Homo sapiens: one gene and its partner. The protein of the gene in region 1 purifies or fractionates together with the protein of each later gene. This does not show direct contact. Each region holds a gene or a part of one and is shown on either strand. Other genes may lie near its edges.

The links.
Region 2: the proteins of MELTF (region 1) and SLC25A15 purify together in Homo sapiens (affinity purification with mass spectrometry; one large-scale study listed by BioGRID and IntAct). This does not show direct contact.

What each region holds. Positions count from the first base shown.
Region 1 is NC_000003.12:197,012,818-197,016,317, forward strand, and holds part of MELTF (melanotransferrin isoform 1 preproprotein), read right to left. Parts: coding exon 3,372-3,500; intron 2,700-3,371; coding exon 2,548-2,699; intron 1-2,547. UniProt on the Homo sapiens protein: Involved in iron cellular uptake. Seems to be internalized and then recycled back to the cell membrane. Binds a single atom of iron per subunit. Could also bind zinc.
Region 2 is NC_000013.11:40,799,611-40,803,110, forward strand, and holds part of SLC25A15 (mitochondrial ornithine transporter 1), read left to right. Parts: exon of another isoform or gene 1-1,114; intron 1,115-3,500.

The DNA.
Region 1 (3,500 bases):
ATGGGGGCCAAATCGAGTGGGTCATGACAAGTGTCAGGAAAAAAAGGATTAGAATAGAATACATTAGAAAATAGTGGGTACCATTTGTGTCATATCTCTGTATATAAAGGACATACATTTTTAAATTTCTATCTGAAAGAAAAGTTTCCGTTCACTAGATTGTGATCAATGCAAAATGTATTCTGAGTGCTCGGTGCTGTCAGCAATGCTGAACTTCCCTATGAAAATTCCAATGACATTCTTTACAGAATTAGAAAGAACAATCCTAAACTTTGTATGGAACCACAAGGGACCCTGAATAGCCAAAGCAATCCTAAGCAAAAAGAACAAAGATAGAGGCATAGAAACGGACATATAGACCAATGATCCAGAATAGAGAACCCAGAAATTAACCCGCAGTTTTACAGCCAGCTGATTTTTGACAAAGGTTTCAAGAACCTCTTTGGGAAAAGAGTGATCTCTTCTTCAGTGGACGCTGCTGGGAAGAAGCTGAATGTCCAAGTGCAGAATGAACGGGGCCCTAAACTACCCCTCACCCAGCACAGGGACCAACTCAAAATGGATGAGAGGCCTAAATGCAGGGCCCAAGACAATAAAATTGCTGAAGAGAATATAGGCAAAACGCTTCAGGACATTGGTCTGAGAAAAGATTTTATGAAAAGACCTCGAAAGCATAGGCAACAAAAGCAATAATAAGCAAAGGGAATTGTATCAAACAAACAAGTTTCTGCACAGCAGAGAAAACAACGAACAGAGTGAAATGAAGACAGCCTATGGAATGAGAGAAAATATTTGCAAACTACTCATCCAACAGGGGATTAATATCCAGAATACACATGCAACGGAAACATCTCAACAGCAGAAAACCATCCAACTTAAAAACGGGCAAATGATCAGAACAGACGTTTCTCAAAAGAAGACATACAAAATGCCAGCAGCCATCACTGATCATCAGGGAAATGCAAATCAAAGCCACAGTGAGGTATCAGCTCACCCCAGTTAGGGTGGCTGTTATCAAAAAGATAAAAAATAACAAATGCTAGTGAGGATGCAGAATAAAGGAAACTCTTACACACCGTTGCTGGGGATGTAAACCCGGACAGCCGCTATGGAAAACAGTACGGAAGTCCCTCCACAAACTACAAATCGAACTATTGAATACCATATGGTCCAGTAATCCCACCACTGGGAATCTGTCCAAAGGAAAGGCAATCAGCCTGTGGAAGGGATGCCCGCACCCCATGTTTATCGCAGCACTGGCCACAATAGCCAGGATGTGGAATCAACCCAGGTGTCCAACAACAGAGGATGGATAGAGAAAATGTCATTGGCATGCACCGTGGAATACTATTTAGCCATAAAAAAGAATGAAATCCTGTCACTGGCAGCAACACGGACGGAACTGGGGGACACCGTGTTATGTGAAATAAGCCAGGCACAGCAAGTTAAACACCATATGTTCCACTCATATGTGGAAGCTAAAAAAAGTTGATCTCACAGAAGTAAAAAGTAGAACAGAGGATGCTGCAGACTGGGAAGGGTAGGGGAAGGGAGGAATAGGGAGAGTTTTTTTTTTTTTTTTTTTTTTTGAGACAGTCTCTCTCTTGTCGCCCAGGCTGGAGTGCAATGGTGTGATCTCGGCTCCCTGCAACCTCCACCTCCCGGGTCCAAGCGATTCTCCTGCCTCAGCCTCCCAAGTAGTTGGGATTACAACTGTGTGCCACCATGCTCGGCTAATTTTTTTGTACTTTTAGTAGAAACAGAGTTTCACCATGTTGGCCAGGCTGGTCTTGAACTCCTAACCTCAAGTGATCCACCCACCTTGGCCTCCCAAAGTGCTGGGATTATAGGTGTGAGCCAATGCACCCAGCCAGGAGAGATAGGAGGAATAAGCTCCAGTGTTCTATAGACTGTAGGATGACTAGAGTTAACAATAATACATAGTTTCAAACAGGTAGGACGATATTGCATGTTCTCCACACGGAGAAATGAGCAATGTTTGAGATGATGGTATGTTAATTATTATCCTGCTCTGATCACCATGTATTCTATGTATCAAAACATCAGTATGTATCTCATGAATATGCACAATTATTATTTGTCTATTTAGAAAAATCAGGAAAAAAGAAAAAAAAAGTCGAACAATGATCCACGCCCACTCTCTATTGCACAAGGGAAGGCTGAGATTCAGAAAGGGGAAGGGGCTTGCCCCAGGCTACAGGGCGTCAGTGCCCAGCTGGGCCAGCGCTTCTTCTGCTCCTGGCACCCCCACTTAGTGAGGAGCTCCCAGGCTCTCCAGGGGACTCACCCCTATCTGCCTGTCCCCTGGGGTGGGTGCTGGCCCCTGCGGTCGCTCCTCCCCGCCTGTCTCTGTCCCCTGGGGTGGGTGCTGGCCCCTGCGGTCGCTCCTCCCCACCCGTCTCTGTGGGCTTGTTGCAGTAGACACTCTCCTCTTCCCCAGGCAGCAGGGGGTGTGGGTAGTAAGAACTGCCCAGGCACTGCCACCACCCGCCCACCTGGCCCACGCTGCACCTGCGTGACTCCCACCTGGATCCGCTCCATGCAGTGTTGGGGGGACTTGGCTGACACGCACTGGATCTCTGGCTTGAGCCGCTGCCGGCGGAAGGCCACGGCCATGTCTCCACACTTCTGGATCTCGGGAGTGGAGAGCACACACCAGCGCAGGTAGGGGGGCAGCCCTGGGGTGGGGCAAGCAAGCGGTCACTGCCAGGCCAGTACTGCCATGGAAGAGCATGGAGTCGGACCCAAGGGAAATTCTGGGCCTTTCTCCTGTCAGGTGTGTGGCTGGGATAAGTTATTTAACCATCGGATCCCACTTCCTCACACAGAAAAGGGGCAACTGTGAGGCCTGAGGAAGACCATGGCTGGCGTGCATGTAACTCAGTGTGTGGTACCCACTTCCCTGGCTGGAGGTGGAAGATACATGGGGCCAGGGGGCTAAAGGCAAGAAGCTCACTTGTAGACTACTGCAATAGTCCAGGCGAAAGATGGCACCTGCGCCAGGGCTGTAGCCATGGGGTAGAGGCGGGGAGTAGGAGCGAGAGGCTGTAGAAGAGCTGACAGGATGCCATGGCCGTGGATGGGGGGGCGAGGAGACCCTTCCCAAGACAGATTCTGATGGTCTGCATCCTCCCCCGCTGCGGCCAGGTGGGGCTTCCGAGGTACAACAGGCCATACAGTGGAAGAGATGCCTCCTCCCCAAAGCCCCAGGGGCAGAGGAATGGAAATGACAGGTTCCCGCAGAGGCCTCCCTGGTGAGCGTCTTCCCCCGGCCACTTTCCCAGAGAGCCTCGCCATGCCCGAGGTTGAGCTGGGCTGGAGCTGGCAGCAGTGGGGACAGGTGGACTTACGGTTGGGGTCACAGAGCAGACCCTTCATGGCGTGCAGGTACTCATGGCCCAGCCACGCCTCATAGGTCTGTGTGGCGATGGGCACAAGCTCCGAGGTAGAGTCTTTGAAGAGTAGATCCTTCTGGCCAT
Region 2 (3,500 bases), on another chromosome or scaffold:
TGTCATCATATAAAACTTAGAAACCACATATGCACACCACAGAGGAGACCTGCTCATCATCCACCACTGAGAATGAACCGCCCTTCTGTTTCAGTTTTCTCCAGGAGAATGCTGTTCAGATGCAGCTGGCAGTGCTACCTCTCGTCAGCAGACATGCTGCACTGAAACTGTAGATGCTGCTTATGATCCAAGATTTAGCTTTTCTTTCATTAGCAAAAAGCAGAGTATTGGAAGAGGTTGTCTGAGCCAGATGAACTTGAGGAGTTTTAGGAAGGGTCGGAAATGTCTGCGAAGATGCAAGGGAACCCACCTTTCTCTGTCCAAATCTTCCCAAAACATCAGACTTTGCCTCTTTGTTGGTCTTGCCTTGGGTATTTATTATATAGAGACTAAACAGAATTTGGAAACCACTGGGATGTTTAGCTATCCCTGCTTTGAATGTTGATTTATTTTATACCACTTAAAATTATTATATAAGCTTCAAGATTGCAAAGGGCAGTCTTAGTTATTTCAGTAGGAGTTTGAAACCTGATTGCAGCTGCAGGTCCCACACAACTGAATTCGGTTTCTTGTGCACAGCACTGTTCTCTGGAGGTGCCTGGAGGTCTGAAGGTGTGCCCTTTTATAGACAGGAATTCCACCATGATGGGTAGAGCTTGTTTTTTAAAAAGGCTTGGGACTAGATACGATTGCCCAAGAAGACAGTGTAGACAGCGAGGAGGGCTGAGCATGAATGGGATGAGCCTCCAGCACAGAAAGGGCAGGCAGGAAGGCAGTAAAGAAACAAGCAGGGCACAAACCAGGAGAGTATGGCATGCCATGATGGAGACTGAACAGAAGCAAAAACTACAGGCAACTGTAGTTTTGTTCCCTGTTGAAGGAGAGACACTCTATTAGAGAAGACCTGGAATTCAGTTCAGTTTCCTTAGCAAAGGACAAAATGGGGAGAGAAGACAGGGAAACAGTAAGCAGCCACGTGAGATTCTGGGGAAGACCTGTGTCTTCTGAGCAAAGTAGCCCCTCCAGCCACAGGATAGACAGTGACTTCTGTCTTGCATGAGTGAAACCACTGGATCTGGCTCTGCCCGCCCCTCCACTTTCTTGCTTCCTTAGCCTGTGAACAAAGTGAAGGACAGGTAAGAGCATATTGCTTTTCTGCTGAGAACAATCTAATACCTTACAGCTGCATTTTCCCACACTGCTTTCAGAACATTGAATTGCTGGGTGTCCTTAAGAAAGGGTTGGGAAATTACGTCACAGTGTCTCTCTCGTGAAGAATCACTCTGGGTACATTTATTTCATATAGTGTATGTGTTATTTAGTTCATTAAAGATGCGTAAGGCTGGGCACAGTGGCTCACGCCTGTAGTCCCAGCACTTTGAGAGGCTGAGGTGGGCAGATTACTTGAGCCCAGGAGTTTGAGACCAACCTGAGCAACATGGCAAAACCCCGTCACTACAAAAAATACAAAACTTAGCTGAGTGTGGTAGCACATGTCTGTGGTCCCAGCTACCAGGGAGGCTGAGGTGGGAGGATTGCTTGAGCTCAGGAGGCAGAGGTTGCAGTGAGATGATGCCACTGCACTCCAGCCTGGGCAACAGAGCGAGACTGTGTCTCTCAAAAAAAAAAAAAAAAGAAAAGAAAAGAAACCATCCTGATTAACCTTGTCTAATCCAGCACTCATCTTTTTTGAGCTTGGGCCCGTTTTTTTTTTCCATCCTGAGGAACAGTGTTTGCCTCTTACCTGTTGGGGAAATGCTCTCTTAGAGTCTACAAAGCTCTGACATGTATATCATGTCTCTATAGCCCTCACCGTGATCCTGTGAGAAGAGCAAGGCAGATGTTACCTCTCTTAGGGATGGAAAACTGAGGTGCCGATGTTGACCTGCTCAAGGTCACCCCGCTAAGGACTTGAAATTGTGTCCTCTGAGCTCCTGCCCAGTCTCCTTTCCATCAGACCACAGTTGGGGGTCTGGAATATTTTATAAGGGTCAGTTCTAGAGAGAAGATTAATCAGGAGCAGTGAAAGGAAAGAACTGCTTGTGAGAGCCTGTGGTGAATTTCTGCAATCACATTGTAAATATTTGTCTGTTCCCGGTTTCAACATGACCCAGAATGTTCTAGTTTGACGTTTGGCTGGACAGGGTCTTACATAGCAGGAGTGCTCAGGTACATGTTTGTTGAACATATGACAAATGGATGATTCTTACAAAATCCCATCCTATACCTATTACTGTTTCAATTCCAGTTCTACACATTCATACTACATGCAGAACCAGGGGCCCATGCACCTCCTTCTGTGCACTGGTCAATGAAAGTATTTATTGGAAAGCCAAAGTCCACTGCATATCTGATTTGACTGTGTCCTTGCACTATAATAATGTGCTTGGTGTTCATTCAGATGTCTGAGCCATTATTATATCTTAAACTCAATAGACTTCTACATTTATTGACTGCCACCTTTGTCCTGGCAAACTTGGCAGATCCTGGTTAATGCTCCTAATTGACTATTGCCTGTCAACAGGTTAACAGAGAGTCCCTGAGGGAGGCCAACTGTGGATCTGCAGGCTGGCTGCAAGACAACAGAAACCATTTTAAGCTTCAGTTCTAACAAGCTGCTAAGGAGTGAAGTGGGGGAAAGGAGTGGACTGAACAGCATTGGATGGTTTCCACACCCCATAAAAGCGTGTGCAAGTACATTTGTGTACCTGGTTCTCCTTTGCTAATGGTTTTAGGCTTAATTCTCTAACATCAAAAGGAAGTCCTTACTGCAAACAGTGTCTTCCTACTGAAAGAAAGCTCCACTCTAAGCCAAGTCTTCTGAAAGAGTTGCCTCTGGCCATGGTACAGAAGCTAGACCACCAGGGACTAGCAAACCAGGGCCAAGACTGGTGCCACCTTGATTTTATACTAATCTTTAACACTGGAAAAACTTGAGTACCCCTGAATATGGTAAGTCCATCTGTGCTTTTTTTTTTTTTTTGAGACGGAGTCTCACTCTGTCGCCCAGGCTGGAGTGCAGTGGCGCAATCTTAACTCATTGCAACCTCGCCTCCCCAGTTCAAGCAATTCTCCTGCCTCAGCCTCCCGAGTAGCTGGGACTACAGGCGCCCACCACCATGCCCAGCTAATTTTTGTATTTTAGTAGAGATGGGGTTTCACCATGTTGGCCAGGATGGTCTTGATCTCTTGACCTCGTGATCTGCCCACCTCGGCCTCCCAAAGTGCTGGGATTACAGGTGTGAGCCACCGTGCCCTGCCCCATCTGTGCTTTTGCTCACAGTTTGGAGAAAAATTGTTAGGGGATTATATCTCTACCTGAGTAGTTAGCTGAGGAGATTCCCACCCACCCTTAGGGGTTTTTGGAAATCTCTGAGGGTGATCTTGGCTGTCCAGTGAGAGCATGATGCTGGCATTGAATGGGTGTCAGGGAACCAGTTCAGTCCTTCCTGCCCAATGAAGGATTGTCCTACCCCCAAATGCCAGTCATGATCCCATGA